Linked DNA regions of Homo sapiens: regions 2 and 3 are each linked to region 1. The links come from fine-mapping of genetic effects on gene expression. A gene starts in region 1. Each other region holds a variant in brackets. All regions are shown on one strand. Distances are from middle to middle. Region 1 holds the start of BLK-AS1 (BLK antisense RNA 1). Region 2 overlaps BLK (BLK proto-oncogene, Src family tyrosine kinase). Region 3 overlaps BLK (BLK proto-oncogene, Src family tyrosine kinase).

Region 1 (10,463 bases):
GACGCGGCCAGCACGGGGGGTGCCCAGCACGGGGGCCTTACTTGATGACAGTCGCTTACCAGTCCTGAACACCTTACTGGGGCTTAGTACTCCGGATGACCGTGCGAGGTCACTGTTACAGCCCTCTACAAATGAAGCGGCACAGAGAGGCCGCGTAACTCGCCCGGGGGTGCAGTCGGTGAAGGAGTCCGTCCGGGGACCCCCTGCGAAGCTGCCTCTGCCCACTGGATTCCGGGTCTGAGAAAAGGGCACAGGCGACACCCCGCCTTCGCGGCCCGTCTGGGATGGCACGGAAGTCGGGGTCGTCCGCGCAGAGGTGGGCACGGGGCGCAGGCGGGCGCGGCCGGCTAGGGCTGCAGCTCGTACTGCCGCTCGGTGGCCGTGTAGAAGTCCTCCAGCACCGACTGCAGGAACTCGAAGGTGGGCCGCTCCTCGGGCCGGCTGCGCCAGCACTCGGCGATGACGCCGCGGTACAGCTCGGGCGGGCAGGTGTCGGGGCGCGGCATGCGGTAGCCGCGCTCCAGGTTGCGGATGACCTCGGGGTTGCTCATCCCTGCGGCAGAGGAGACCGCAAGCGGGGGTGAGGGGCTGGGGTCCTCGGTGGGTGGGGGGCCCTGAGCGTCCCGCGGGGCACAGTGGGCCCAGGCAAGGGACAGCAGTGCCCACAGTCCCAGACCACTTCTCCAGCCTCGTGCGTTGCCTGGCTGCCCGGTCTCTAAACAGCCCTTTATTTACTTTTTATTGCCTGGGGAATGCCTAGAAATGAGGCTGTAGATTTTCTCCTGAGTACGGGGCAGGTCCTCTGAAGATGGGACCCTCCCTCTCTTGATTACCTGTGACCACCAGGGGCACAGCCAAGCCCATCACTCATGGGCAGCTGCCAGGTGCACACAGCAGCAGGTGACCCGGAGCCTGCCCACCTGTGGGGGCCAAGTGGCTGGAGCCCTTCGACTGGGGCTGGGGGCTGTCGTCCACGATTCTGGCCACACAGGAAGGGGCTTTGGGGAATCCACTATGGGTGCAAAGCCAAGGTAGGCACAACCTGTCCTCAACTGAGAACAAGCCACTGGGAGTAAACTTGAGTTCGGATGTGCCCTTTGTCTTGATTTCAGTTTGAGGGACTCATTTGACCTCTGCTGGAGGAAGGAGACACAGCCCTGTGGCCCAGAGCAATAGTGATGCAGGGGGCAGAGCTCCACCCCAGATGCCATGCCTGGGTCTCCGTCTTCGCTCTGGGACTCACTCTGAAAAGAACAGGGCAGCCACAGGCACCAAGCACAGGCGACCTGCCATCAGGGCCGGCCGGGAAAGCAGGGAGCCGCGAGCTGCGGGGTGAGCCACCTACCTGGGTATGGCACCCGCCCATAAGTGACAACTTCCATCAGGAGGACTCCAAACGACCACACGTCTGCTTTGATGGTGAAGACCCCGAAGTGGATGGCTTCCGGGGCTGTCCACTTGATGGGGAACTTGGCCCCTGTGGGAAAAGCCATGCAAGCTTTGGGAGGCCACGGCCGGTGGCCCCTACCCTCCATCCTCACCCCTACCCCTGCTCCTGCTGTCCTTCCATCAAGCCCCCACTGCGGGGCCTCACAGGGCGGGGCGGCCAGGCATGGCGGGGGAGCCACTACCGCACACCAGGACACATGACCAGGTGAGTGCAGACACGACATCAGCAGCACAGAAAGACGATATGGACACCAATACCACACAGTCACCCACTTTGGTTCTTTAAAAAGAGAGCGATGGCCTCAATGGGCAGCCACCACGTTTCCACCTGGGATGGAAGGGGCCTGTTTCACCTTACAGGGGCCTTGTTTAATTTAAAAGACATGGCCTGGGCAAGCCATTTAAACCTGCGGGCGCCTCCGTTAGTCCCTTCCTGCAAAATGGAAATGGTGACACTTGTACCTCCGAGGGCCGCTATGAGGAAGAACTCACATCCGGCTGCCCTGTGAAGCACCTCAATGGCTGCAGCCCCGGCCAGCATTTGGAGCAGACCTCAGGGCTTGGCACTTCACAGCCTCCCCTGGCCTCCATTTCTCGGTCTCCCCAGCCAGCCTGAAGTTCCCGAGAGAACAAGCCATATCCTGTCTGCTTGTCATCTGACTCATAGGCTCAGCAGACACTGCTTGCTAGCTTGATAAATATATGTGACCCCTTCAGATTCTCTTGTGACGTAGATTTCCACCTCAGTTATATGCACAGAGTAAAACAGTGCTCCGTGGACACCCTAATACAGGTTGGTTTGCTGATCGCACATGAGAGCTGTGTTTCCCACAGTGTGCTCTGTGAAAGCCTAATTCCATGGAAGGTTAATAGGGACTATATAAAAATAGTATTTGGGCATGGCTTACACCTGTCATCCCAGCGCTTTGGGAGGTCAAGGCAGGCAGATCACCTAAATTCAGGAGTTCGAGACCAGCCTGGCCAACATGGTGAAACCCCATCTCTACTAAACATACAAAAATTAGCCAGGTGTAGTGGCACACGCCTGTAATCCCAACTACTTGGGAGGCTGAGGCAGAAGAATTGCTTGAACCCAGGAGGCGGAGGTTGCAGTGAGCCAAGATTGTGCCACTGCACTCCAGCCTGGGTGACAGAGACTCCATCTCAAAAAAAAAAAAAATAGTATTTGGAGCTCAAATTAGTTTGGGAGGCACTAGGTGAGGCAAACATAAACTGTTTCTTTGCTGCAGGACTTCTCAGTGCCTTTAATATGTTGATGTGCACTGGGAATCTCCAAGACAGGGAGTAGGGTGGACTGCTGTTTCTCCAAACCTACCTTATCCTAAAGCTGTTCCTCCATGGGAGGTCTCAGGGCACTACCATTCTGCTGAACACATTTGGGTAAATGAAGGAAATGCTGATCTAGAGCTGTAGAAACCGTATAGCCCTCAGGTGTCTTCCCTCAGGGCTGTGCTGGGAGAAGTTAAAGGCGGCTTTGAGGAGCTGGGAAAGATAAGGCCCTAGGTTTCCCTTGTGGTTAGGGGCTGTGCTTACCCTCTTGGGCCGTGTATTCACTGTCGATGATTCGAGCCAAGCCAAAATCAGCAATTTTGCAGCACAAGGCCTCAGACACCAGGATGTTGGCCGCCCGCAGGTCGCGGTGGATGGAATTCATGCGCTCAATGTATGCCATCCCTTCAGCAATCTGAGGGAACAGGCACATGGTGAAGGACAGCCTGGGGGCCTCCACGCCAAGACCGAGCCCACACTGTGTCCCCCGCACAGCCCCTGTGGGCTGCTGGGGAAGGAGCTGTTTCTTGGATGGAGTAGAAAGGTGACTGTGTTGCTCCTCAGCCGAATAAACTCCTCTCCTAGAAGCCCAGAACAGCAACGCAGCAACGTGGGCATCAGAGACACAGGGGCTACCTGTGCCCCTCCCCCTCCTCGTTCTCGCTCCACACAGCTGTGTCCAAGGGTCTGCAGAGATGGAAGATAGAAGAACACAGGCAGGAGAAAAGGAGAGGGAGGGAGAAGAGAAGAAATGGTAAGGAAGGAGGGGGAGGGGGAGCAGGAGGCAAGGACAGGCAGCTCTCACTGGCTGGCTGGAAGCACAGCTCCTGGAGCTGGAGGCCCTCGGGAAGTCGCTGACCTCTAGCAAGCTGCTTAACCTCCCCGAGGGGCCACAGTCCTGACATGGAACATGAGGGATGTGGTCTCCAGGGCAGGGGGTTGAGGCAAGCATTAGACGAGGTTGATTTGTGACCAAGAACCTCACCCAGCGCCTGCCCCGTGGGGGCACCCAGGGAGCACTGGCAGATCCAGGTGGACAGAGGCTGTGAAGAAGAAGAGACTTGTCTCTCCTCCCCTGATCACCAGCCTGGGCCAGGGATAGCAGCTGGTGCTACTTGGCACCTTTTAGCTGAGGAAACTAAGGCTTTATTCACCCAATCAATGGACGAAGAAACTGAGGCAGAAAGCAGAGACCCCATTTACCTCTTCAGACATGCGACTTCAAGAAGCCAGCACTAGAATTGATTCCACTTCTCCTTATGCTTGCATTTTGTTGGTTTATCTATGAATCCATCCATCTATCCATGCATCCATCCATCCATGCATCCATCCATCCACCCACCCATCCATCCATCAACACATCCATGCATCCATCCATGTATCCATCCATCCATCCATCTATGCATCCTTCCATGTATCCATCCATCCATGGATCCATCCATCCATCCACCCACCCACCCACCCATCCATCCATCCACCCATTCATCCATCCATGCATGCATCCATCCATCCATCCATCCATCCATCCATCCATGCATCCATCCATCCACCCACCCACCCACCCACCCACCCACCCACGCATCCACCCATCCATGCATCCATCCATCCCCTTGCTACACCATGCAATCAATACTCATTTACTAATATGGGACTGTGGGGAATATAAAACTGAGTACTAAATATATCTGGGCAGCATCTAACAGTACTCGTTCTGATAACTAATATTTATTGAACAGTACCAGAAATATATTTTAAAAAATGTTGAGTAGGGCCCAGATCTGCTTTCAAGAAGAAGCTGCCCAGATCTGCTGAGCAAGAACAGTGCTTCCGGGAACACCTGAGCTAAGGGCTCTCTGGCAGTTTCTTGTCCAGGGAAACCTTCATAGAAATGACATTACGCTTGAGCCATGGATGATGATAAGGATTCTGCCAGGTGGGAAGTGTTCAAGGCTTCCTGGGCAGAGGAGGTAGAGGGGTGGCGAGGCATGGGGCATGGGAACCGGTGGCATCTGGCTGCAAAGTGGGGCCCGAGGGATTGTGATTGCAGGGTTCCTGTGGGGTTGGCCAGATCTGGCCTTGGAAGAAAGGTCTGGCGAGACTTTGCATGGCTTCCTATGGAGTAAGAAAAGAAGAGCCCAGAAGGGCCGGGTGTGTGTCTGCTCATGTGTGTGTAAGTTTGCGTGTTTGTGTGTGTGTTTGTGTGTGTGAGTTTGTGAGTTTGTGTAAATGTGTTTGTGTGAGTTTGTGTTTGAGTCTGAGTCTGTGTATTTGTGTGTCTGTGTGAGTTTGTGTGTGTGAGTCTGTGTGTCTGTGTGTGTGTCTGTCTGTGTGTGAGTTTGCGTGTCTGTGTGAGTCTGTGTATGTGTTTGTGTTTGTCCGTGTGTGTGTGAGTCTGTGTTTTTATGTGTGTGAGAGTGTGTGTGTGTACATGTGTGCTTAGAGAGCCATTGGCATGGTCAGCATGTGGTTAGAGGCTGCCCTTCTGGGAAGTTCTGATTTTCTGGCTCCTCACCCCCGATTCTGTGGCTACATCCAGGTATTAAACTCCGATGGCTTTTCACATCCTTTGCCCCTGGGTCACACGAGATTTCCCAAGGGGGTGTAGTGGGGATTGAATAGGAGACAGCGGAGGGTGAGAGAAGGAAGGGGAAAGGAAGCAGCAGCAGTGGGCAGGCTTATCACTGCCCTGGGGTTTGAAGCCGGTTACCAGCACTCATTTTCCAAAACCAGCCTGCCCAGATGGCTGTCTGCCCACCTCAGCGGAAAAAGGCGTTGTGGCATCAGTTCCTGCAGCGGCGCTACTGGGTAAGGCTGGGCGAGGGGCGAGGTGGGAGGGCTGATGTGGGCGGTGGGTGGGAGCGTTTCCTCTCGGTGGCAGCTGTATGTGTGTGTGTATGTGTACGCACGTGTGTGCCTCACAGGCTGACCACAGACCAAAACTTTTCTGCTGAGAGTTCCAGTTTTAACAGGGCCACCAGATGTGCTTCCTGCCAGCTAGAGCTCTCGGCTAAAACCCTCCTCTCCACTCTGCTCTTCACCCCATGGAGTCCAGAAAGTTCTGCATGTGAACGTGAGGGACACTGAGGACCAGTCCTGGGTAGCCAAGGAGGTCCAGCACTCGCAATTCCCTGGTGGCAGAAGGTGGGGCTGTCCTCCAGGGCTCAGAGAAGTCATGTCCCTGGCATCTGTGTGTAGCTCAGGCCTGCCCATCAGCCTGGGGTCGACGCCAGGGCTGTGCAAAGGCTGAGGGCCCCTGGGATGGGAAGTCCTACAGGAGATGTTTGTGGGCACCATCTAAGGAAGAGATGAGGTCACAACAGAACACACTTGCCTGCCGGGTTCAATGGAACTCTTGCTAACTCTGTGTGTTTCCCATGACATTCATTCGCCCTCTCTTCCTTCGGAACAGAATAGCCTCATTCCAACACAGCAGCCCGGGTCTAAGGCTCCATTCCCTGGGCTCCCTCACAGCTGCGTGGGGCAGGAGGCACAGTGGCCAGGGTTTGCAAGTCCAAGTGCAGTGGGTGACCTTGGGGATATCTGCCTAGAGGAAGGTGGCCTTCAGTACCCCCTGACTTCTCCTGCTGGCTGAGAGGATGGGGTGGTAAGGCACGAGCAGCCATTGTGGGCAGCAGGTGGCACATGCCGCCCTTTCTCTGCACCTGGTACTTCACCAACCTGCGCCGACATGTCAATCAGCCTTGGGAGTGACAATCTGCTCCCTTCATCTGTCTTCAGGAAATCCAGCAGGCATCCTAAGAAAAGAGAAGTTGCAAGTGCCCTTCTGCAAAGTGACCCGCCCCTGGTGGTGCCAGCCTCTCTCTGGTGTGAGTGGCTCCCCATGGGCGCGGGAAGTGGGAGTTTGCACCCTCAGATCTCTCGGTGCATCAGGAAGGATCTACCTACTGCTGCCGAGTGCCTTCCACTTTACAAAATGCCAGTCTCAGCACCCCGGGAGGCAGCCAATATACCAGCAGTTGCCCAGAAGTTAGGTTTCAGCCAGGTGCAGGGACCTGTCTGAAGTCACCCAGCCGGGAGCTGGGAGTGGGACCCCAGTTCTGACTCGAAGTTTCATGCCCCTTCTTGTCTTTCCCCCCGTGTTGGCCTCGCTCCCTTGATCCCTGCTGGCAGACACCCTCTGCCTCTGAGGACCAGGCATCAGCAAGAAAGCACCAGAATGGAGAGAACTGTCCCCCAGGTTTGGTGCAGGGGACAAATGCAGCTCCCCCTGGAATCAGAAAGCTGGGAGGGATGGATGCTTGCCCTAGGGGCAGGCTAGAGGCACCCCCAGCACAGCCTCCGACCGGGGGCCCCTTGGTGACAGTTGTTAGGGAGCTATATCAACATGGGCATGTTAGGATCCTATAGGAGCAGTGTGCGGTCAGGGTCATAGGAGGGTGAGAAAGTGGCATGAGAACTTGGCCACGCCGTGGACCTCAGAGGCCATCAAGCCCAACCTCTCTGGCCATCCTTGTAAAATATTCACACAGTTGTAAATGGTTGCATGACCAGGAGGCAGGAGACCTGGATCTAGTACTGTCCCTGCATGCCTGGCCTGGTGTTCGTCTGACTTTGCAATGCTCTGTCCCTCCCAGCAGGCATCAAAGAGTGCTAGGCACAGAAGATGCACTCCAGAAATGCTGTCTGAACTGCTCCTGGGCTGAGAACATGGCTCTGTCAGAACCACTTCACCCTCCTGTTTCTCACCCTCCCTCTGTCCCTCCCCCTCCCTCCATCCCTCCCTGTCCCCACACCGTGCCATGCCCTAGATCTGCAGGACCCCCTGGCCTGGTGAACCCACCGCAGCGGACCCTCCTCCTCCTGCTAAGCCCGGCCCTCCCGCCTCGCTCTGAGGATGCGGCTCTGCGGGGGGCACCACCTCTGGCCATGTACTCGGTGACAATGTAGATGGGCTCCTTGGTGACCACTGCGTAGAGTCGGACCAGCCGCTCGTGCTGCAGAGCCTTCATCACGTTGGCCTCACCCAGAAAGGCTTCTGGAGACATGGTTCCCTCCTTCAGCGTCTTAATGGCCACCTTCATGTTGTTTTTGTAGTAACCTGAGCCCGGGGGAGTGAAGAAGCCAATCAGAAGACAGAGAGCTTGCTCGGAGGTGATCCCTTAACCAAAATCGGGGTAAGTGCCCAGGTGCCACCCCATTCCAGGTGCCAGAGCTGGAACATGCAGTTCCGGAGGCCATGGTTGTGTGGTGCCTACCTTGCGTTCCAGGTCCCTTCTATATGGGGCCTCAGGCAGTGGAGGAATGTACCCTGCCTGGGGGGCATTTCACCTATTTGCCCCACACCCTGGGCCTGTGTCCTTCTGTCCTGCACGGAACCTGTGTCCTTCCCCCACCCCTCCCCTACATAATGAGTCTCTTCTATCACACAATAACTCCTTGGTGGAAATAAGCACACAGCCTGGGGTACACTGGGCAGGAGGATGACGCATGGGGGTCTCCTTCCCTCCTTCTGAAGCCCCATGGCGATCCTGTCCCACTCCTTAAACTATCTGTATCTCCACACTCTCCCTGTACTCCATGAAGTCCCCTGAAGGGCAAAAGACAACTCTACTTGCTTTTCTAGAGGACATGGGCCTTGGCAGGGACCTGGGTACAGCTCCTGCCAAAAGCACCGTGGGCATCAGCCCCAGGTAAGGGAGCACTCATGGACCAGCCCCAGGTAAGGGAGGACTCATGGACCAATCCAGGGATAAAACGGAACACGAGTTTTATATCCTGGTGGGCGGGGGGGGGAAGGGGGCAGGTGTCAGCAGCGATGGAAATGTGAGGACACCAGGCCTGGAGCTTCAGTGACTTGGCCAAAGTCCCACGGCTGCCCTCGGTGTGCACTCAGGCTCTGGAACATCATGGCTCATCACGTTTAACCTCCTGTTTCCATCTGGGTGATGAAAAGCTAAGGGGAGTTAACGCGCCGCTGCAGCTCATTGTCAAAGCCAGCTTCAGGCAGAGAACGAAGGAGGGAGCGACTTCGGGGCTGGGTGAGCTGGATTCTGTTCCTGCTCTGCCACCACCATAAGCGGTCCCAGCTGTTACAACGCGGCTCTGCACCTCCACTTCCTCCTCTGTAAAATGAGTGTCCTCGCCTCTGTCCTCGCTCCCTCTCAAGACTTCTGGGGGAGGGATGACACGCTATGAAAATGCTGAACCTGGACTCAGGATGCGGCGCAGGTGGAATGGGGGGAGAAATGCTCCCACGTGTGCACACACTCACCCATCCAGACTTCGCCGAATTGTCCAGACCCGAGTTTCCTGACCAGCCTGAGAGACTGCCGGGGGATCTCCCATTCATCCTGGGCCCAGGGATTCTGCGGGGCCGGGCGCACACAGGGCAGGGTCAGCCTCTGGCATAGACCATCCCCCTTCTCTGCATTAGGGAAGAAAAGACAGGGCTGGGGGTTACCAGAGCAGCCAGGCTCTACCTTGGGAGCTGTATCATTCCTAGCTGGCCCTCCACTCCCCAGCCACCCCACCCCCTGCATGGGTGTGTGCACACGCCTGCACATGCACACACACTCAACTCTTTCTCTTCGTTTGCGCAAAGCAGGGCATGCTATCTCTAAAATCGACCTGCTCACTCTAAGACTGAAAATGCTTGCTACTCTCTAAGGGGTTCCCTGCTGAGCCAGGAGAGGGAATTAGGGCCACCAATTCCCGGTGCTCAGAGTTGCTACCTCCTTAGGCCTAACTTTGGGATAATCTTTCCATCCCCCAAGGTGGCACCAATGACTCACACAATTGGGAATCTTAGCGAGAGATCCAGGGGCTCTTGGCACAAGTCCCTGCCCCCATTGCACGCCCCCTCTTACTAGAATAGTGCTGCACCAGGGCCTGGAGCGAGGGGAAGGTGATCCGGGGGGAGATGTAGTAGCCCCCTTCATCCAGGCAGCGGATCTTATAGTGCTTGATCAGCTCCCCCTGGGTGGTGACATCCTTCACAGACAGGGAGAAGGCACCTGGAGGGTTCATGAAGACACACACGAGAAGTAAGGCACAAAGACAAAAAACGGGACTGGGATTTGGGCCTCATTTTAAAGCTTTGAAAAAAGTTCCCCAATTCTGTTCTTCATTATCAGCACTCCCTCCACAAGTTTCCTTTCCCTGCATCTCAACCTCCATGCTTTTGGAAGCCTCCCCTGTAAGTTCCATCTGACTCTGACCTTGGCATCCCCCCACTATCCTGCAAAACTCAGCCAGGGAATCACAGAGCCCTGCGGCAGGCAGCACAGTTTCTCAGCAATCATGTAGGTCCCCACTTGGGCATCTGGTCACTCGGGGACCCTTTGTCATGGACTATTGAGAAATCTAGTCTCGTTGGAGTGACTAGGGGCTTTATTTTCTGGCTAAAGAGGGTATCTCTTACTCCTACAAGCAGATAGCCATTCACAGCTGCAAGTACCCATGTCCATGGCGGACACCGTAATAAGCTATGCCCAGGGGCTCTGTTCAAAGTCATTTGCTGCCTGTTACATACACCTGTTATTTTGTCTTCTAGGTTAATGTTTTCCCGCAGGCAAGTGGTAGCAGATGTCAAGGGTTAAGGACAATTTAGGAGGTAAGAATTTCCAGGTAAGAAACGCTTTTCCATGAACTTGATGTTTTTATAAAATGCGTCTGTCCAGCTACTTGGGTACCATGACCTTACCCCGCCCCTTACCCATTATTTGGGAGATGAGGACGCTGGGGCCCAGCAGAGTTCGCGGCAG
Region 2 (10,463 bases), 24 kb after region 1:
ATAGTTTTATGTAGCATTGTCTTGTAATTATTATACTCTGTTCTCTTTTTTGATTGTGATGTTTTTCTTGTTCCTAATATAAATGGAATGTTCTTTTAATTAAAATTATAATTTGTAATTGCATAAAATCATCTGAAGCTTTACATGACTAAATTAAGTCTTAACCTAGCTTTATAATTATGAAATAGAAGATTGTAATCAAAACCGCATGAAATTGGAATAATAAAAGTAGACAACAATCATCAGAGCAGAATAAAAAACATACAAACAGATTTTGGTAAATACAGGAATCGCGTATGTGAAAAAGATAGCATTTTAATTCAGTAGAAAGTGGATAGTTTATTTTAATAAATGGTATTAGGAAAATGACTATTTACCTTAAGGAAAATACAATTGAACCCCTACCTCACATGATATTAAAAAATAAATTCTAGGTGTATGACTGAAAAAAATAAAAAACAAAAATGTAATTAAAAGAAATGTAAGAAACTGTGTATATAACCCAGAGTTTGGAGACAACTACTAACAAAGATAAAATACCCAGAAGCGAAGAGAGAACAAAAAAAGTACAAATTCATAAACATTAAAAATATTAGATGGTATAAGAAACTACTCATGAAGTTCGTAGATAAGCAATAGATTGGGTAAGAGATTGCAAAGCATCAGATAAATGTGTATTCATAATATATACAAAGCTCATAAACTTTTGACAGGAAGTATATTGCAGCATATAATTCATTCAATAGAAAAATGTGTAAAGATAAGAAATAGGAAGTTAGTGCAACACAAACCCAAATAGTAAAATGTTTGTTATAATTATTGTTTCATTTGTTCCTTCACGCTCCATTTCTAGGATTAATCTTCTGTGAGAGCTGGAATCTTTGTTTTATTCATTGCTGAATCCAAATTGCTAAACCAATGTCTGGCACAGAGTGTGGGCTTAATAAATATTTATTAGACAAAACATGAAATATTATTGGAAGAAGCAATCTTTTAAATTCTTTTAAAGGGCAATCTTTTAAATTCTGTTAAAATAAAAAAGCACACATACCTTTTGATTTTCAGTCCCACTCTGGACTATCTCAGGTTAATAAAACATCATTATATAGACACATGTGAGAGATGAAAATGTTTGTTGTAGTAATAGTTGGAAAAACAATCCCCTCCCCCGAAAAAAAATCCCAAACAGAAAACAACAATGTAACTGCCCAGCAATTGAAGACTTGTTGAATAAATCTACACTCTATAAATCTCTCATACAACTACTAAAAAAAATGTGCTGGATCTTCACCAGTGAGGTCAAGAGGAATTTCGGTACCATGTTGTTACACGAGAAAAGTAAGACCCAAAGAGGTGCATGAGGGAATCCCATATTTGCAAACACCAAATGAAAAGAAACCTCTATTCAGGCGTGTAGATATGTTTGCATATTACACAGAAAGAGGCTGGGGAGGATGAACACCAAGTTGTTTACTGTGGTTATTGTTAGAGGAAGGGAGAGTACAAAACAGAGGTGTGGTGTAAGGCAAAACAAAACAAAAAAAAAACCAGCGGACTTAAAAAACGGTGTGTGTGCTAATGCAAAGCAGGTCCCACCAAAGTATTTTCTAAATGGATTTTGGATTATAAGACTTCATGTGACTTTGACTTTCTTTCTTTTAATTGTATATATTTCTTAAATTCTTTAATACTAAGCATATATTATTGATACAAGCAGAAAAATAAAAGGAGGATTTGAGTGATTTGCCCAGCAACAGAGGAGCATAAGGCCTGGAGCCAGGGCCAGCCTGCAGTTCTTGACAATGACCGTTAAGTGGCCAGCCAGGGCTGCCTGAACCTCAGGCCTTTCGTGGCCTCTCTCAGCCTCCCTGACTCAACGAAGGGCCAGTGGTCAGCAGCTCCTAGTATATTCCCCAGACTTGGACTCATACTTCCGCATCTGCCCAGGTGACCAGCCCTCTTGTCTTTCTTAGTCTGGCCAGCCATATTGCCATTGACTTTAAGCTTCCTGGCAAACACCTGTGTCCACTGAGACAACATAATTGAACATTGGTTGTTCAATTTATTGAACAAAGAACCGGACAGAAAGTAAAATTCCTAAGATTAAATGACCCACTACTTACACTTCTGTCCTTTGACTCCTTAGCAGTGTGTGTGCAGATGATTTTCCATGGGTCTCATGAGTACCTCAGGTCTCTATGGGTCCCCCTACTCCAGTGGCTTTGACTGGAGACCTGGGTTCCTCAAGAGGCCATGGGACAACCAGGGCTGTCACTGGTGCTCGGGCTGCACCCAGCAGTTTCAGGTTGGGTGAAGCCAGGAAGTGCAGAAGTCCAGACAGAGGCAAAACGCATCACACACTGGCTGGGGCTCCAGATGGCTTTGCTGCATTGTGGGAAGGGTGTGAGTCTGTGTATGTTTGTGAGAGAGTGGGAGAGGAAGCATACACACTTATGTGCACTTGTGTGTGTGTGAGAGCGAGAGCATGCGTGTGAATACACATGTGTGTATGTGCTTGAATATGTGTGTGTATATATGTGTGTGTGTGTCTATGTGTGCACGTGTATATGCATGTGTGAGAGAGCATGCATGTGCACCGTGTGCATGTGTGTCTAGTCGGGGGAGTCAGCAAGAGGAGGGGAAGTGGGAAAGGGGAGTTGTTTGTTTATTTGAAACCAGCTAGGCCCTCTAATGCAGACTTTCACCAGAGCAGGGCAGTCAATGTTTGCTTTGGGAGATGCTCAAAGCCTGAAACACAGCTTCAGTCAAACAAGGGGTGTGGTGGAGGCATCAACTAAAAATAGAGAAACTAGAAACCCCTTATTTGCACTTGGCTAGCATGACATGGTTGAAAAGCACTTGACGGATAACGAGTTTTTCTTTTTTTCTAATACATGTTAGCCTTGATAAATTGGTTACAGTTATCCTCATTTTACCACTGAAGAAGGCGAGGCGAGGTGGCTTGGTAAGGTCATGCTGAAGGTGGCAGAGCTGGCAGCTGGAGGGTGTTACTGTCTCCAGGGCTGCTTGAGCCCTCTGCACAAAACAGGTGCACCTGTGGCCCTGCCTGAGGCTCTGTGTCCCTTGGAGGGGACAGTTCAGATTCCCTATCATCTCCCCTGTGGCAAAATAGTTTTGCTATTTTGTATCTGGAAGCCTTGCCATGTTATGTGCTGGAGGCTTTGCCTTTCTGATTTGACCTGCCAGACATAGGTGGGTAGCATCCAGGTAGAACAGGGGTACCTACTGGCAAAGCTGGGACTCACCCTGGGTGTCGCGATCACAATGCCATGCTAGCTGCCGGCATGAGATCCCATATGGAGCATCTCACCAACATCCAGAATTCCAAATTCTCCCAGTACAAACCACCAATGCTATACTCATCTTGTAAATGAAGAAAGTACGGTGATTGGCCTATGGCTCTGAATTAAAGAAGGGGCCAAAGAATTTGAGTTAAAATTCATGTTTCATGTCTCAACTCAGGACAACACCACTGAAATGAGGCTTCCTCACCTTTGCCCTAATACTGACCTCTCCACATGTGAACCTGAAACAGCCCCGATAACAGTTCCTAGCAACGAGGTTCTTCTATTCATTCAGCCACAGACATTCAGTTGCTGTCAACCATGAACTATGTCAGGCATAGCGGAAGGTACAGGCATGAAACAAGGATGGAGCCCACTCTCACAGGAAAATAAGGAGGAAAGGCATGCACCCGATTCCATCAGTTCAGAGTGGGCATGATTCTGTACCAAAGAGAGGCCTGGGTAAAGTGTTTTGTGAGCTCAGCAAAAAGAAATTACTTCCACCTGGGAGAAAACGCTAGCCAGACCTGAGAAGGATGGCTACAACAGATTTTTTTAGATGAAAACTATTTTTTATGAAACCTTCCAAAATATACTAAAGTCAAGAATATTGGCCAGGCACAGTGGTTCATGCCTGTAATCCCAGCACTTGCGAGGTTGAGGTGGGAGATCATTTGAGGTCAGGGGTTTGAGACCAACCTGGCCAACATGGTGAAACCCCGTCTCTACCACAAATACAAAAATTAGCCAGGCACGTGCCTATAAAAATTAGCCAGGCGCATGCCTGTAATCCCAGCTACTTGGGAGGTTGAGGTGGGAGAATCGCTTGAAACCAGGAGGTGGAGGTTGCAGTGAGCCAAGATCCTGCCACTGCACTCCAGCCTAGTTGACAGAGTGAGACTGTCTCAAAAAAATAAATAAAATAATAATATTAATAATAATAGAACTCTTCTACACTCATCACCCACATTCAATAATTATCTTTAAAATTGTTTTCTGGGTTGCAGTATTTTACATCATATCGTTTTATTTCCTCTAAATGAATGAAACTTGGAAACAACATGAAATCAATGTAGTGAAGCAAGTCATTTCACCACCCCATATTTTGCATTTGTTTCTAAAGCATGGAGACATTTGCTCACATAACCCCAATGTTACTTCATCACATCTAACAAAACTAGCAATATTTCCATGGTATCATCTAACCATCCAGCCATTGAACCCAATTCATAATCACATTTTAACAATTGACTTAAAAATAGCTTCTTGCTTAGTTTGTCCTACTCAGGATTCAAACAAGGTTCGTATATAACTCAACGTCTTAGGTTTCCTTTAAACAGGAGTCCCTTCTGCTCTGACTTTGGTTAGTTTCAAGCCTTTGATTTGTAAAGGCCAGTCCTATAGAATGTTCTCCATTTTGGATTTTGCGTCCTTGTGATGGTTCATCACTTGCTCTTCCCTCTCGTCCTTCTTACACATAGAGTTACCTCTGTAGGCTCCATTAGATTCAAGCTCAGCCCCTCTTGGTAGAGATGCTGTCGAGGAGGTGATCTGTGCTCCATGTTGCATCCTACCAGGAGGCTCACAGTGTTTACCTGCACCATTTTAGTGATGCTAAGATAGGTCGAGGCTCAGGCATCCCTATTCCTCCATTGACAAGTTCCTCACCGACATTTAAAAGTCCCATTAGTGGTTACAAAATGGGCGTGCTCTGATTCCATCAGTCCTTCCACACTTGTTAGTTGGGAGTTGAAAGAGCAAAGGATGAGAAACTGGGAACACTAGAAAAAAATACCAGGCACACTCCCAACAGGGTTGGGTAGTATTTCAGAAATAGGTGTTTTTCCAAACACATGAAGATAGAAAACACGTTCAGAAAACAAAGCTTTTCCATTGCTGGATTGTAGAGTGTGTGCTACAGTCATTCACAGCTAATGCTTTGTGCA[A/G]TATATCCCTTCCTTTCCTTTCCTTCCTTCCCTTCCCTTTTCCTTCTCTTTCTTTCTTTCTTTCTTTCTTTCTTTCTTTCTTTCTTTCTTTCTTTCTTTCTTTCTTTCTTCTTTCTTTCTTTCCTTTCCTTCTTTTCTTTTTCTTTCTTTCTCTCTCTTTCTTTCTTTCTTTCCTTCTTTCTTTCTTTCTTTCATTCATCTGTCTGTCTCTTGTCACCCAGACTGGAGTGCAGAGGCGTGATCATGGCTCACTGCAGCCTTGAACTCCTGGGCTCAAGTGATCCTCCCACCTCAACCTCCCGAGTAGCTAGGACCACAGGCACGTGCTGCCATGCCTGGCTAATTTTTTAAACAATTTTATGTAGAGGTGGGATTTCATCATGTTGCCCAGGCTGGTCTTGAATGCCTGGACTCAAGCAATCCTCCCACTTCAGCCTCCCAAAGTTCTGGGTTGGATACAGGCATGAGCCGCTGCATCTGGCCTCCTTGTGCAATACTTTTAAATGCCAGCAGAATCTTTTCCCAGCACTAGCACAGAGCCTGATGGTGAGAGGCTGCTCTGTAACACCTGGCTGGGTGTGTAAGGGCCTTGGGCACGTGTGGCCCCTGCAAAAGGCTGACCTAGCAATGCCAACCTGTGACTTTTAGGTACTTCGGCACAGTTAGGAGGAGAAATTATGTGGCCATTTCAATTTTTTAAAGTGAAAAGATCTTTTGTGGAAATTCACCTCCCCCCATTGTGGTAAAATTGATAGAAAAGATTTTCAGGTGGTAAAAAGTTTGAGGGTGCTGAGCAGACCTTCAGGAAGGAAGGAAGAAGGCATTTTTATAAAGCTGTGTTAAGTCAAAGACAGACACTTGTTTATCGAGTCACCTACATTTGATTCTGCTAACAGAGAAGCTTGAAATTCATTAGGTAATTCTGGGGACGGATAAAATTCCTTTATGTGAGTGAATTTTTTTGGGGGGGGAACACCATGTAAATTTATGTTTTAAAAAACTCTCACAGTAGTGATTATTAAAATATGTTAGCAATATGCCAAAATGTTAATCCAACTACAGTTGTGTCTTGTATTGATGAGACTATGGGCCTTAACCTATTTTTCAATTTTTAACTTTTTGCATTGTTTGCATTTTGAAAAATTAAATGAGAAATCAAATCATGGGTCATTACTTCCCAATGGAGTCAGTTATGATTCTTTGGCACAATAGTTCTGAAACCTCAGTTTGTATTTTAACCAGCAGGGGAGTTTGCAGACTCCCAACCCCAGCCCCAGCAGTGCTGGTATCTGCATTTTTAAAAAATGCCCCCAGTGATGCTGATGCAGGCAGGTCATGAGCTCCACTTCATGGAGACCCTTTCTTCAATTGGCCGAGCTTCTGGATCATGACTTGTGACAAGGATTGAAAGGCAGGCCCGCCAACACGGGGCATTCCCTCCTTTGAGTCTCCCATAAATAATGCCTGCAGTTTTACTGCCAGTGATCCTCTTGTCTCTCCATGAAATGAATTATTTCTGTCCTCCATACAAACATTTCTTACATATTAGTATATTTCTGCATAGCTTTTTGACAGAGGGAAATAACTTCCCTTTTTATAATAACTCACACCTCTGTGGTACTTTCCAGCCTGCAAAGCATTTTCCCACATGAGCCTCATGAGGACCCTGTAAACTAGATAGATCCTCCCCCTCCCCATCTCCCTCCCTCTCCCCCTCCGTCTCCTCCACCTCCCCTTCCCCCTCCTCCTACTCCTCTCCTCCTCCTTCTCCTCCTCCTCCTCCTCCTCCGGCAGACAGGGAAGAAACTGAAGCACAGAAGAGAGATTTGAGCCACATCTCTGACTTCAAACCCTTGGTCTTTCCCACGGAGGTTCACACGTATCTTACCCAGATACACATCTGGTCACGACTTGAACCTCTCTTAAAAGGCCCTGGACATCATTCAATCCTTTGGAGCTGTTTCTCCAATGTTTCCTTGGCAGAACCCAGAGGTGGAATGTGTAAGAAGGGAGCGTGCAGTGAGAAGCACCTCCATCGGGTTTGAGGGTGCAGGAGAACATTTAGACTGAAAGGTTCTCTTTTATGCTTTCAAACATGAGATTGGAAAATGTTAAAGAAAGAAAAAGAAAAGAAAAGGTCTCAGGCCTTTAACATGCTTGGGTTGATTGTAATTACTGAGTGGATCTAGAGACACAGATGTCCTGCTAGAGAGGCAGAGATTTAAAATTAACTCATAAAACGGTTGCAGGATTTGCCTATCACATAAAACATGAATACTAATGATGCTGGCACAGTGCCTAGTACACCTTCTGACTCAAGGCTGGGCATTTTACTGCATGCTTTTCATGTATTATATGTAGCCCTGACAGCAGACATATACCTTCCCATTTTACAGATGAAGAAACTCAGGCTCCTTGAGGCTTAAGGTCTTGCTGAAGGTACAGTAAGTCACAGAACTGTTATTCAAAAACCAATTTTATCCACAGGTAACTTAACAGTGTGCCACATGCAAGTGTGACACTCTCTAAAGAAACACGATAATATTCAGCGCTCACTAATCATATTCAGCACTCATAGTGCCTGTCATCCAGTAACAATTGCCAGGCATGCAAAGAAACAGAAAAACATGACTCTCAACTAGGAGAAAAGTTAATTGAGAGGAACATGAGCAGAAATTGCACACATTTTGATATTAGTAGACTAGTGCCTTAAAACAGAAATGACAAAAATATATAAACTGGTTCAAATATATAACTGAAAGCAATAAGACAATGAAGAGAGAAAATGAAGACATAAAAAAATTAAATGGGTCTCCTAGAGATTAAAAAAAATACAATATCTGAAATTAAGAAAAAAGAGAGGCCAGAAGTGGCGGCTCATGCCTGTAATCCCAGCACTTTAGGAGGCCAAGGCAGGAGGATCATTTGAGCTCAGGAGTTCGAGACCAGCCTGGCCAACATGGTGAAACCCTGTCTCTGCTAAAAATACAAAAAAAAAAAAAAAAATGAGCTGGGCATGGTGCTGCGTGCCTGTAATCCTAGCTACTTGGGAGCCTGAGGCAGGAGAATTGCTTGAGCCTGGGAGGCAGAGGTTGCTTTGAGCCAAGATCACACCACTGCACTCTAGCCTGGGCAACAGAGCGAGATTTTGTCTCAAATAAATAAATAAATAAATAAATATTAAAATTTTTTTATAAAAGGAAAAAAAAACATGACCAGGTACATTGGCTCATGCCTGTAATCCCAGCACTTTGGGAGGCCGAAGCAGGTGAATTACTTGAGGTCAGGGGTTTGAGACCAGCCTGGCCAACATGGTGAAACCCCATCTCTACTAAAAATGCAAAAACTAGCTGGGTTTGGTGGCAGGTGCCTGTAATCACAGCTACTTGGGAGGCTGATGCAGAAGAATCACTTGAACTCGAGAGGCTGTGGTTGCAGTGAGCCGAGATGGTGCCACTGCACTCCAGCCTGGGCAACAGGGCGAGACTCTGTCTCAAAAACAAACAAACAAACAACCAAAACTCTAGATGGGATGAATAGTACATTGGGTGCTGCAGAAGGAAGGTCAGAGGGCTTGGAGACACTGCAATTGAAAGTACCCACAGTGAAGCACAGGGAGAAAAAGGTGAACATAAACAACAGAGCATCAGTGACTGGGGAGAAATTAGCACGCAGTCAGAAGACACGTAACTGGGCTACCAGAAAGACTATGAAACTTAAAGAAACCAAAAATGGAAATTCCAAATTTGATAGAAGCTATAGACCCGAAGACTCAAGAATATCAACCCCAAGTATGAAGAAAACCACACCAAGGTACATTATAATCGTATTGTTGAAAACCAATGATAAATAAAAACAATCTTAAAAGCTGCTTTAAAGAGGTACATTATATTCTTAGAAGAAAACCTAGAAGGAAATCTTTGTGACCTTGGTGTCACAAAGGATATAAAGAATATGAGTCAGAAGCATACAAACGTGACCTTCTATTCCCTTAGAATAGATTATTCCCTTAGAATAGAAGATCATAAAGTATACAAGAAAAATTGATAAATTAGACTTTTCAAAATTAAGAACTTCTGCACTTTAAAAACACCATTAAGAAAAGAAATAGCTAAATCAGAGACAGGCAGGACATTTTTGAAAAACATGTATCTATATGAGAATATATAATTAACTTTTAAACTCTATAAAAGAAGCCAAAAATTCAATTTAACAAACAGTTGAACAGAGAAGACAGCTGAGCAGCACACAAACCCATGAACAGGTGTTCGGTGTCGTCAGTCATTAGGGGAATGGCAACTAAAACCACAGTGAAATGCCACCACACAACCACCCAGATGCTAAAATTAGATGACCGATCATACCAAGTGTTGGCAAGCATATGGAGAAACTAGAATGCTCACCTGAGGCTGATGGTAAGGTGAAACGAAACAACTTTAGGAAACAATTTGGGAGCTTCTTAACCTGTGACCCAGATATTTCACTTCTTGTTGCTTATCAAAGAGAAATAAAAACATATGACCACAGAAAGACTTGACATATATGTTCTTAGCATTGTTACTCATATTAATTAGCTCCCAGCTGGAAACAACCAAAACATTCAGTAACTGGAAAAATCTTTTCGACTTTTCACTTAAAATTGTTGCTGATTCTTTTTGTTTTGTTTTTCAGAGTAAAGAAAACTTCTACTGAGCTATTTACAACTTTTAACAATTGAGCAAAATATACTCCTGTAAACAAAATTTAGAGCATATTTCTTTCTCTTTACCTGCCTTCTCCAGAATTTGGAAATTATTTGTGAGTATTTTTAACATAAGGCAATATAGTTACTTGAGTAAGTTCAATAAGAATGTGTTTTCTTTTGTAGCAAGACACAGTTGGAGACACTGCTTATTTTACCAAGGCTTTGACTGAAATGACATATTTTCAGACTGCTTTAAGAAATCGAGGCTGACCTACAGAGATGATGAAAGCCCCTTGGAGGAACTGACCTCCTACCTTGTCCTGTACAGGATTCCCGACCTGTGGCAAATAAAGAATGTCACTTTCTGACAGGCCCAGGAACTCCAAGCTTTGTTGGGACCTCAAGAAGAAAGGAATTCACCCAATTCATACAAGTATCTGCAGGCACAAATAAATCCTTGGCTGGGCTCAAGAGACTTTTAAAAGGTCTAATCTGAGATTCCTTATGAAAAAAATTCCAGCAAAGCCA
Region 3 (10,463 bases), 50 kb after region 1:
AGCAGCATCTCTGCACTGTGTCACTTGTACCCCAGCCTCTCTCCCAGCTGTTCCCCTCACTGCTCAGAGCTCAGCGTGCAAGAAGGGTCCTCCACTGTGCTCTTACAAGGCTTCTGAGACCTGGGATGGCCTGCTGGGCCTCAGATCCCTCGGGGAGGCCATTGCGGGGCTCTTGCCTGTAGCCCGCAAACACCCTTGTTTAGCGTCCTTCTGCCTTTAGGATGGGACTAAGACAGCATTGCCTCTCTCTCGCAAAGGACAAGTGGGTTTTCTCACATTTGCTGGAACAGTGGACAGGAGTACCCTGTGGACAGATCAAGGCTCTATTTGCTGAGTCCTGTCTTTCAGCTGAATTGGAGCAACCGTTAGACTCAGTGACAGGTAGCACATGGTCAAGGTGACCAGGGACAGAGACCTTGCCCAGACCCTGTTCACTTGAAATAACAAGGATTTTCCTCCACTCATTTCCTGGGATACCAAAACAGAATGGTTCCTTGTGCCAGAAGGGAAGGTCCGATCCCCTTGGCAGATCCTGTGTCATTACGAGTTTTATTGGGTTCAATGTCATAAAACACCACAGCCATGGAGACCTATAAAATGCCCCAAACATTTCCCTTGCAAAAGTCAGACCAAGGAGTTGAATTATTTCCAAGGTGCAGGCTTCTCCGAGTGATGGGAGACTCTGAATCCACCTGGGTCGGGCCCAGCTGCTCCATTACCCCAAGCCCCCTTCACACAGGGTTCTCATGCAGTGCGCGGCGGTGGTGTGGACTGCCCGCCAACCACACTTAAATCACATGGAATTCAATAAACGTCCACAACCTGTTCTGAGCACCACTCTATAACTCTGGCTAACTATTTAGAAGGCACTTTGGGAATGCAATGCCTCAAAGGCCTCCCTGGATCACTTGGTATGAATTTTGCAGCCCAAGGTGCAATCTTGTACGAGTCACTTCATCTCATTGCTTCTGTCTCTGTGCAGCGAGGGCTGTGGGTGGATGATCTCTGAGTTGCCTCCAGCCCTAACATTCAGGGGCTATGATTGCATCGCAGATTTAGGGGATGCTGAGGGACAGACAGCCTGGGCTCTGCTCACAGCTGCAGAGAAAAAGTGTGCAGCCTGGAGATGGTCCAGCCCTGGCACTCTCATGCCCTAAAGGAGCCTGGGGGTAACACAGGGCTCCATCAGGAATGATGCTCTGGTTTCTCTTCGTCTCTCCACTCCCTCTCAGTCTCCACTATGGTCCACGAATCACCAAGGTCTTCATTGCTGCCAGCATCAGCCTTGTACCCCTGCTTTTCCATCTCCCCCTTCCTACCATCCACTCCCACTTCAAGACACAGAGGTCCTAGTTCATCAGCCAACTGCGTGTGGTGCATTGAGGACAAGCCCTGGGACCCAGCATGCTCTGTAAGGCTCAAGGCCAGAGACCAATCTAGGCCGTGGGCATGGACAGTAGGGATCTCGTAGGAGGATAAAACAAGAAAAGTAAATATTTTATCAAGGACAAAAAAGAACTTCAAGAGACTCTTGCTTCAGACTTCCATGAATAAATAATTCTTTTAGAAAGGCAATCATGTTATGTGGCCCGTAAGACCTTAAAATTGAATAATCTGACCAGCCGCGGTGGCTCACGCCTGTAATCCCAGCAGTCTGGGAGGCCGAAGCGGGCAGATCACTTGAGGTCAGGAGTTTGAGTCCAGCCTGGCCAACACAGTGAAACCCCATCTCTACTAAAAATACAATAATTAGCTGGGCATGGTGGTGGGTGGCGCCTGTAGTCCCAGCTACTCAAGAGGCTGAGACAGCAGAATCACTTGAACCCAGGAGGGGGAGGTTGCGGTGAGCCGAGATTGTGCCACTGCACTCCAGCCTGGGTGACAGAGCAAGACTCTGTCTCAAACAAACAAACAAACAAACAAACAAAACCAGAAGCCTGTGTAATTTGCAGTAAAATTTTAAAATCTCTCTGAGCCTCAATGGCTTTATCTATAAAGTAGAGGGTGGAAATATGTTTTCTGCCTGCCTTAAAGGATCAAATTGATAATACTAAAATAATTTGTAAAACATGAAGTCCCATGTAAAAATCTCTGTTGAGACCCAATTGAACCTAAATGATTAGAACTGTTGGGCTTTCAGACTATCCACATCTGTGTCAGATGGCTGACATGTCGTCAGAGTGATTTCAGGGTGGGGTTTAGGATGAGGAATTTTACGTGCTTATAATGATATTGGCTAGACCTTGTTAAGAGATCATAACAAGTTCTGGAAAAGAGCTAAACAAACAACACAGTTTTCTGTGGTGTCCTCCACAGGTCTGCTTGAAGAACTAGTCTTCGTTCACGAGGTCATCCACACATCACCAACTCTGTACCCATTAAGTCATCCCTTCTTCTGATCCCACAGCGCTTCTTACAGACCAGTAGCATAGAACTTGCGTGTCTGCCTTCTAAACCAGACTCCTCCTGAGCTCTTCAAGGAAAAGCCATTTTGTTTGTTTGGTTGTTTATCTTTGTATTTTCAGGCCCCATCTTACCACTTGATACATTGTAGACATGCAGTAAATCTTTCTCTTCTTTGAACGAATAAATTAAATAATCAAACAATCACAGAAAACCCAAACGTAAGAAAATGCTTACTTTTCCACCTCCCGACAGCATCCACTGCCAGAAAGAGTAAATAGTTTCATTTACCAAGACAATGGTGGAAAGATGTCATTCATACTCCCAACCAGTGTTATCCTAAATATTGATTATGGATCATTAGCCAATACTTTGGGGTCAAGAGGGCACATTGATCTCATGTTGAATGTTGCACTACATCTAAGACGCCCAAAATGAAAATATAATTTTCTCCTTTTTGTTGCATGACTGTTTGCCGTATTTCAGGAAGTCCATCCCCTTTAAAGACTGCTAGTTTTCAACAATAATAAGTGGGAAACCTAGCAGAGATTCCCAGAGGAAGAAAGGAGAAGAGAAATTGAATTACACCCCATGTTCTTTGCTCCAGGTATACACACTTGTGTTTAAGGAAATTTAAGACAGAATTTCTAAGAGAGAAAGCAAATCAAACTTTTTTAGGAAGTCAAACCCGCTGACTGGTGCCAGAGTTTGTTGTTAACAGAAACTGATTTTTTTTTTAATACTTTAAGTTTTAGGGTACATGTGCACAACATACAGGTTTGTTACATATGTATACATGTGCCATGTTGGTGTGCTGCACCCATTAACTGGTCATTTAGCATTAGGTATATCTCCTAATGCTATCCCTCCCCGCTCTCCCCACCCCACAACAGGCCCCGGTGTGTGATGTTCCCCTTCCTGTGTCCATGTGTTCTCATTGCTGTGTGAAGACAAAAGACCGAGCTGTATTCAGGAATTCAATGAGCTGAAGTCTCCCACTCCGTTGGGTGGAACTTTTGGGTTTGGTCTCTTGAATTTCAAGGTTTCTTTGGCTCCTTCAGCCTCAAATAGTAACATTTCAGTTTGGTAAACACAGCTCACCTCCTATGGTGAGTGTTTGTAGCAGGAAAGAACAATTAACTAACCACAAATATTTGTGTGTCAGTCTGACTCCCTGGTGAGAAATGCAAAGCTTACGGGGATCCATGTGTTTTAAAATGCCAAAGCATTTCCTTTAGTTAAGAACCACGGACGGCCATAATCAAGGCAGAATCTCGTACTTTAACACATTAGCAATTAGCTTTGGTTAAAAAAGTAGAAATAGAAGCAACTGCCTTAACAAAGAGGCACTTTATTTATGTATTTATTTATTTATTTATTTATTTATTTATTTATTTATTTATTTGAGATGGAGTCTCTGTCATCCTGGCTGGAGTACAGTGGCGCTATCCCGGGGATAATATATTCCCTATCCCATTACTGGACCTCTGTATGTAGGCAAAGATCTTTCGATTTCTTTCATTTCAATCTCGGATTCCCAGAAAGGGGGAAAGAGACAGAGAGAGAAAGCTGGGTTTTTTAAAAAACATTTTTGGGGCCACAGCCCCCGTTGAGAACCTGATGGAACTACAGACACTATCCCTATAAAATACACTTATCACAAACATGCCAAATTTTGTGCTCAGCTTCAGGACCTCTCCCCCGACAAAGCCCCACAATCATTCATGGACTTCTGATTAGAAACCCTGGTTTAGATGATGGGACAAATGTACCCAAAGCCTTGGGGTTTGTTTCCTTATGAGTCATTTCATTTCACAGAGAGGAAAGTCTGCTCTCTGGCCAAAGACCACACCAGTAACCCTGGCCAGCAAATATGGCCGTCAAGGAGCTGGAGAAAAGAGATGAAAAACTCAAGTCACTATCACACTGACTTTAAACGCAATTTAAAGCTTACCCCACGCCAGCCCCCAAATGAATGTTTCATCTCCCCATATCATCGTAATTCCTTGAAGGGATTAGGAAAGAACACTCTCCAGCTCCACGATGTAATTCAGAATGACTTTGCAAGCTGCATTTATTTTTTCAATCATCACCTGCTATGGTGATACAAAAATATGGAAGCAAACGAAACACCTGATTGAAATGGTGATAGAGTTCACACAGTGAAATATTATGCAGGCCCAAAAATGATCATTTTGAGTCCTCAAAAGTGATCAAAAGTAGCAGTGGGAAAGATGCTTATGTTATAATAAAAAGAAAGAAAAAGAAAAGAGAAGAATCTAAGGTGCTATGTCTTTATGATTCCAGCAATGAAAACTGCGCATCAGATAAATCAAAATGGGTAGCTCTTAGGTAAAAGTGTTAGGTTGCCAGTGTTATTGATGGTTTATATCTATTTTCAAAATTTTCTAGGGTATTATATAATGTTTACAGTTTAAAAGTCAGGAGAAAATGACACATCTGTACAAAATCAGCCTGTTCTTCCAAGTGGCTGTGGCCAGACTGCCCCTCTAAGTGGTCCAGCTCTTTCTGTGGCTTCTCTGGTGATTAGGCTGAAAAGGCAGCCGGGTCGCCACAGACCCGGCAGAGCACCCCCAGGCTTAGACAACCACAGAACCCGAGCTGGGAGACTGGAAACACTGGCAAGGGCGCAGTCACATCCCAGCGCCCACCCTGCTTCCTATCAGCCCCCGTGCAGTTCAAGTCTGCCGCACAGAGACTGGCTCATGGAAGCTGGTGAGGCATTTCCATGTCTAAATCCACGTGGGCCTCTGATTTTTGGATTCACGTCATCCATGAATTGGCTGTGAGTCAGATATCAATGACCTGTCCAGGGCAACAGCCCTGTGGATGGTGGATGGTAAAGTCCCTGGGCTGCCAAGCCCCAGGCCTGGCTGGCTTCTTGCTGGCATCAGCTGATGCTGGAAACCGAGCTGGGGTCCCGATGACATCCCTTCGGGTGCTGTGAGGTTAGCTGCTCCCACAGCAGCCACCGAGAGAGAGGATTGCCAACTTTTCGTGCGGTGTAACCTAAAGGAGGGGTAGCAGCTTCAACAGTTAGGCAGCCACTGTGACCTGGTTAAGGGTTATGGTCAGCACCTGAGTCATTGTTGTGATGCCTCCTAAGTAATAGCAGTGCCAGCTGCATGCAGCTCATGGCCTGCTTGCTCCCCACAGGCTGGGCTGCTAACGACCTCCCTTGCCTGCAGCTGGGGGGAATTGATGAGTAGGAGGCACAAAAGGCGCCCAGCATTTCCTTCCCAAAGCTCTCAGTGGATGGGCAGGCACCTCCCTCGAGCCCTGAGAAAACCCCTCCACCACGGCTCCTCTGGCCTCTGCAAATGTCAGTTGCTCCCTTGTCTGATGGCCCCAAAGGGCAGGACCGGCCCCCATCACAGTTGCGTTTGGGTCAGAAGGAGAGATGGGTGCACACAGCTGACACTACAGTGGCTGTCTTATTTCTGCCGCCCGAGGCCCAGCACAGTGTCTGGCTTTCTGCACATCCCCGTAAGTAATGATTGACTAGTGACAGTTCCAATTCCAGGAGACCCGAAGGCAGAGGGAATGCGGGAGAGGACTGACATGAAGTACCTTCTGGTATAGGGTGGTCAGAAGTGGAAAGCAAGGAAGAAGTGAAAAGCCACGGGTGGGGGCTGGAGCTACTGCGTGGACAGGAATGTGGCTCACCAAGAGGGGGCCAAGGAAGGTCCCACACATGATGGCTTCGCCATGGGGCCATGTCTTCAGGCAAACTTGTGCCAGAGCCCCCTAGCGGAGGAAAGCTGTTCTGGATCCCAGGTTTTCTGAGGCCTACAGTCACCTAGCACGCGCCCCATGTGAGCACAGCTTGAGCTCACCCGTTCTTGGCTCTTGATCTACCCCCAGTAGCTGTGCATGTGTCTGCAAGCCACGGGTGATTTCCCAGCATGTGCTTAGCCTTCGCGCCGTGACACGCTTCTCTTGCCTTACAGTAGTGGCAGAGGCGGTGGTTAATGA[A/G]GACAGATGGAGGGTTCAGAGCACTGGCTTTGGGGTCAAACAGTCCTGAGCCTGCACTTTGGCTCTAGTCCTTCCCAGCCCTGGGCCAGTGGGCAGGTTCCTGATGACATCACGGGGCTGTTGTGAGGACCACATGACTTTAGGTTTGAGAAGCACCCAAGGCCTGGTGATGACCCCCTACTTGACCAGTGTGCCTGATGTGCCACACAGAGCCACCAAAGGGTGCACTGGAAGGCCGTTGACTCTACCCCCGATTAGCAGTGCTGGGCCCTGAACCCCAGAGAGAGGAAGTCACCCAGCCAGACAGCAAGGCCAGTGCTCACGTGTAGAAATGCTGGCTCGGGGAGAAAACTAGCTTGCCATGGGGTGACTGTCTTTAGCAATCTCTTCCCTGCTCTCCTGGCCTCAGGTTCCCCCTCCAGTCCTAATCCAGGTCACCATCCTGCCTCACTGTCATCTGCACCCTAGGCCTGGCTGATCTTTGGCACCCACTGAGCTGTATGTTGACATGGACCCAGTAACCCCCAAACCCCCAAGCTGGTCCATTGGGACTTTCTGATTCGCCTCTTCTAAATTCCAAGTGCTTGGCCACTCCTTACCTGGACCTTTTATCTCCACTGGGTCCACTAAGCTCCTGTCTCTTCAAAGTTCTTTTAAAGCGTGACTTGCCTTCTTTTAAAAGCTCCCAAAAGCCCTCAGGGTGGGTGGTGTCTTCCCCTGCAGTTGGGGTGGTCATCCCTGCCTTTCTTGAGGGCCATGACAGGCCCGTCCCCTGGGAGGATCCATTAGTGACATCTACATGGTGGTCCAGGCCAGGGCCACTGCAAATCCAGGACCACTCCCAGGGGCAGGGTTTGCCAAGGTGGGAAGGTAGGACATTCTGCCTTATTCTTTTACAATCCTAGTCCATCGTCCTTCCAATTCTAACTAGTTGTCAAGCTGTCCTTCCTCCCTAGCCCGCTTCAGTTTCCTTCCCCACTTCACTCTTCCTCTGCCAAGGGTGTTGTTACTTGGCTCCTGGCCTTGTAAAATCACAGTGTACATTTATACTGCATGTTGGAAAAAACATCAATGTCACAAGCTCAGTGATGCTTACACACTGCTCTGTCAGCAGATGGGACAGGCTACCTGCCTTTCTGAGATTGTTCTTCCTCCTATTTGTTATTTTCCCTACCCGCACCTGAACCATTCACGATGGTTCTGCACCCATTGTCACAGGAAAGCAGAAAGAGAGACAAAAGAACTTTCCTGCTTTCAGCCCGTGATGCAGATCTTTCAGCCCGTGACTGAGAGATCTTGTTGAGTCAGTTTGGGCAACCGCGTCTCAAGTGGCCTCCCTGAGAGTCCCACCTGGGGGGCCCCAGAGTGGGAGGATGCATCCCTCAACCTGGGATGTGGCCTGGAATCTCTGAGAGGGGGCTTGGCCAGGGTCAGAGGCTGACATGACATTCTAGCAGCCCCCTGCATGGACTGATGACAAAGACCAAATAGGCCACCCCAGAATTCCTGAGACTCATGAGGCTCCCAGAACTTAGACCCCACCCTGGAGAAAGGTATGAAGACCCTGAATTGAGAGGTCAGTTTCCTCTCCCCAACAGAGATGTAGCTATTACCAGATAGCTTTTCTGTTTTTGCACACCAAGCTGTGGACTGAGATTCACACTCAACATACGTAAATCCAGTCTGTCAGTCATTCACCTGAGCCCACCCACACCCCTCCAGAGGCCAGGAACGCCCTCATAAGAAGCCTAACCTGCCCTTCCACCTTCCATGAAACTAGTGCCATGGCCAACAGTTACAAGGATTCAGCACATTCTGTTGTTTTCTTTTTTTCTAAAAAATGATAAATGAGCCAACTACATCTTTCTGAGTGTCTTCAGGCTGTGACCTTGGGAAGGCAAAAAGCCCTGGCATTGTCCTCCCCTAGGTCTGCAAATAGGACATAAAACAGCTTCAAGCACATTCAAGGTCACCTTAAAGACACCCCACGATGTGGCAAAGAGACAGCTCCAGAGCCAGGCTGGTAACCTTCTGCGTGACCTCAGGAAAAGCACTCAGCTCTCCAGGTGTGCGGTGGGGAACCAGGATGAAGAGCCACGTGCACCTGGCACCTGGCCCAAAACCTGTTCTACCATCTGCCTCCCTGTTGGGCCCACTGTGGGAAGAGATTTGTCATGCCTGGCGGGGACAGGAGCAGGGCGAGAGGAAGATGGGGAGAGGTCTTATCGGAGGCAGGGACATTAGGACTGGACCTCCAAGGATACATAGAAGCTCTCTGAAGGAGATGGGCATTTCAGGCAGGGAGTGGAGTTGGCAAAAGCTCTGAAGTGTCATGTGTGCCAGGGAGTCCTCAGGGACAGGACAGATGGGCCCAGCGTGCTTGGAGAAGAAAGGAGACCCAGACTGTCCACTCCCTGGAGGCCTCAATGGGAGACTTGGCCCTTGTTCTCAAACACAGAGGAGTTTATGGTGGCTTTACCCTGTGCGGTGATAGGGCCACATTTGAGTTTTAGAAAGACCTTGGCAGCCACACATGGGATGAATTGGAGCATCAGATTCTGAAGACAGAGAAATGAGCTCCAAGGATGCGGAACTGCCCAGTCTAGAAGGGGGAGGGCCTGAACGAAAGCAATGGAGCTTGGGAGCAAATTGGAGAAAGGAGAGAACAAGTGTTATTACAACTTTGCCCTCACTCAGGGACACCGGCCAGAGGCTACAGTTGGCCCTGCATTGAGTTATGAGTGTCCAGGTCACCCTCTGGCTTGGCAGGTCACCATGCTGTGCTCAGGGACAAGGGGTGGAGGGAGCGGGTGCTGTCTCCCTTCTCCAGGCCCATTCCAAGTAGAAAACAGAGATCTCTTGCTATTTGACAACAGAAAACTTTGTACAGTAGAAAGAATAGAAAGAACTTTGTGAAGGATGATACTCAAGTGACTAGATTTCTACAAAATAGATGAGGTTTAGGAAACTTTATGGCACAGAATTTATTTGTTCAGTTTTGCTGCAATAGTATTTGTCATGGTAGGTGGTTTTGCTGTTGTTTTTGATAAGCATGTAGATGTACCTGTATGTGTGCCTGTGTATCTTTGTGTGTTCCTCTGTGTCTAGGTATTTCTACATGTCTGTGCATGTGTGTATATGTGTGGGTGTCTGTGTGTTTCTGTGTGTATTCTTATGTGTATGTGTCTGTATCTATGTGTCTGTGTGCATGTATGTGTCTGTACGTGTCTCTGTGCATGTGTGTTTGTGTGTACATATGCTCTGTATCCATTACCCCCTTGCCTGAAACATGGCCACAGAGATGTCCTCATTTTGGTGTTTCTTGTCGTAAAATCCTTGAAACAAAGTCCACATGGGCCACTTAGGCCAAACACCACATGCTGGAGAGCACCAGGGTGCCCAACACTAAATATGCCAGCACCCTTATCAGGCCTCATCTCAAGGGTGGGAACAGGGGGCACACTCCTCAGTCGCTTAGACCGTCCTCAAACAGCAAGTCACCATATTGGAGACAGTTTTTGAGCACATGCTCCATGTAGCCTGAGCTAGTAGCCCCTCCCGCCTGCAATTAACTAAAAGTATTTAGCTACGAAGACTGATAAAAGATCTTAAACGCACGTCCCTGTGATGGCATTACACACGGATAACCAGCTTCTGAAGGCGCCTACTTCTCCCCCTTCTGAAGGGCCTACTTCTTCTTCTGTGGCCCTTTCCTTGGCCACAAAGGGGTGTGGCTTTTGTGCAGGTGAATGGGATCTTTTCTTTTTTTTTTCTTTTCTTTTCTTTTCTTTTCTTTTCTTTTCTTTTCTTTTCTTTCTTCCTTCCTTCCTTCCTTCCTTCCTCCCTTCCTTTCTTTATTTTGAGATGGAATCTCGCTCTGTTGCTCAAGCTGGAGTGCAATGGTGCGATCTCAGCTCACTGCAACCTTTGCCTCCTTGGGTTCAAGCAATTCTCCTACCTCAGCCTCCTGAGTAGCTGGGATTACAGTCGCACACCACCACACCCAGCTAATTTTTGCATTTTGAGTAGAGACAGTTTCGCCATGTTGGCCAGACCAGTCTCAA

Evidence for each region. PIP is the estimated chance that this variant, and not a neighbour inherited with it, causes the effect. A credible set is the group of variants that fine-mapping cannot tell apart.
Region 2: its variant is the best candidate, but not a certain one, in a credible set for the expression of BLK-AS1 in blood mononuclear cells (TOPMed, PIP 0.56).
Region 3: its variant is the best candidate, but not a certain one, in a credible set for the expression of BLK-AS1 in whole blood (TOPMed, PIP 0.84).

Annotation. Positions count from the first base shown.
Region 1 is chr8:11,553,993-11,564,455 of GRCh38, reverse strand. BLK-AS1 (BLK antisense RNA 1) reads left to right here and starts at 6,191. Exons shown (of 5, transcript XR_948956.3): 1 at 6,191-6,566; 2 at 7,795-8,390; 3 at 8,594-8,738; 4 at 10,253-10,312. BLK (BLK proto-oncogene, Src family tyrosine kinase) reads right to left here. Exons shown (of 13, transcript NM_001715.3): 7 at 9,567-9,713; 8 at 8,972-9,124; 9 at 7,619-7,798; 10 at 6,418-6,494; 11 at 3,004-3,154; 12 at 1,346-1,477; 13 at 1-553. The coding sequence ends at 348. RefSeq lists enhancers at 1,036-1,085, 5,732-6,021.
Region 2 is chr8:11,530,160-11,540,622 of GRCh38, reverse strand. All of the region lies in intron 1 of BLK (BLK proto-oncogene, Src family tyrosine kinase), which reads right to left. Among named protein-coding and RNA genes, the nearest start is that of BLK-AS1, 23 kb to the left of the region's middle. RefSeq lists enhancers at 1,533-1,612, 2,773-3,002, 8,469-8,528, 8,699-8,778 and a silencer at 2,295-2,459. The variant A/G (reference allele first, on the strand shown) is at 5,252.
Region 3 is chr8:11,504,120-11,514,582 of GRCh38, reverse strand. All of the region lies in intron 1 of BLK (BLK proto-oncogene, Src family tyrosine kinase), which reads right to left. Among named protein-coding and RNA genes, the nearest start is that of BLK, 15 kb to the right of the region's middle. RefSeq lists enhancers at 6,428-6,657, 7,721-7,780. The variant A/G (reference allele first, on the strand shown) is at 6,400.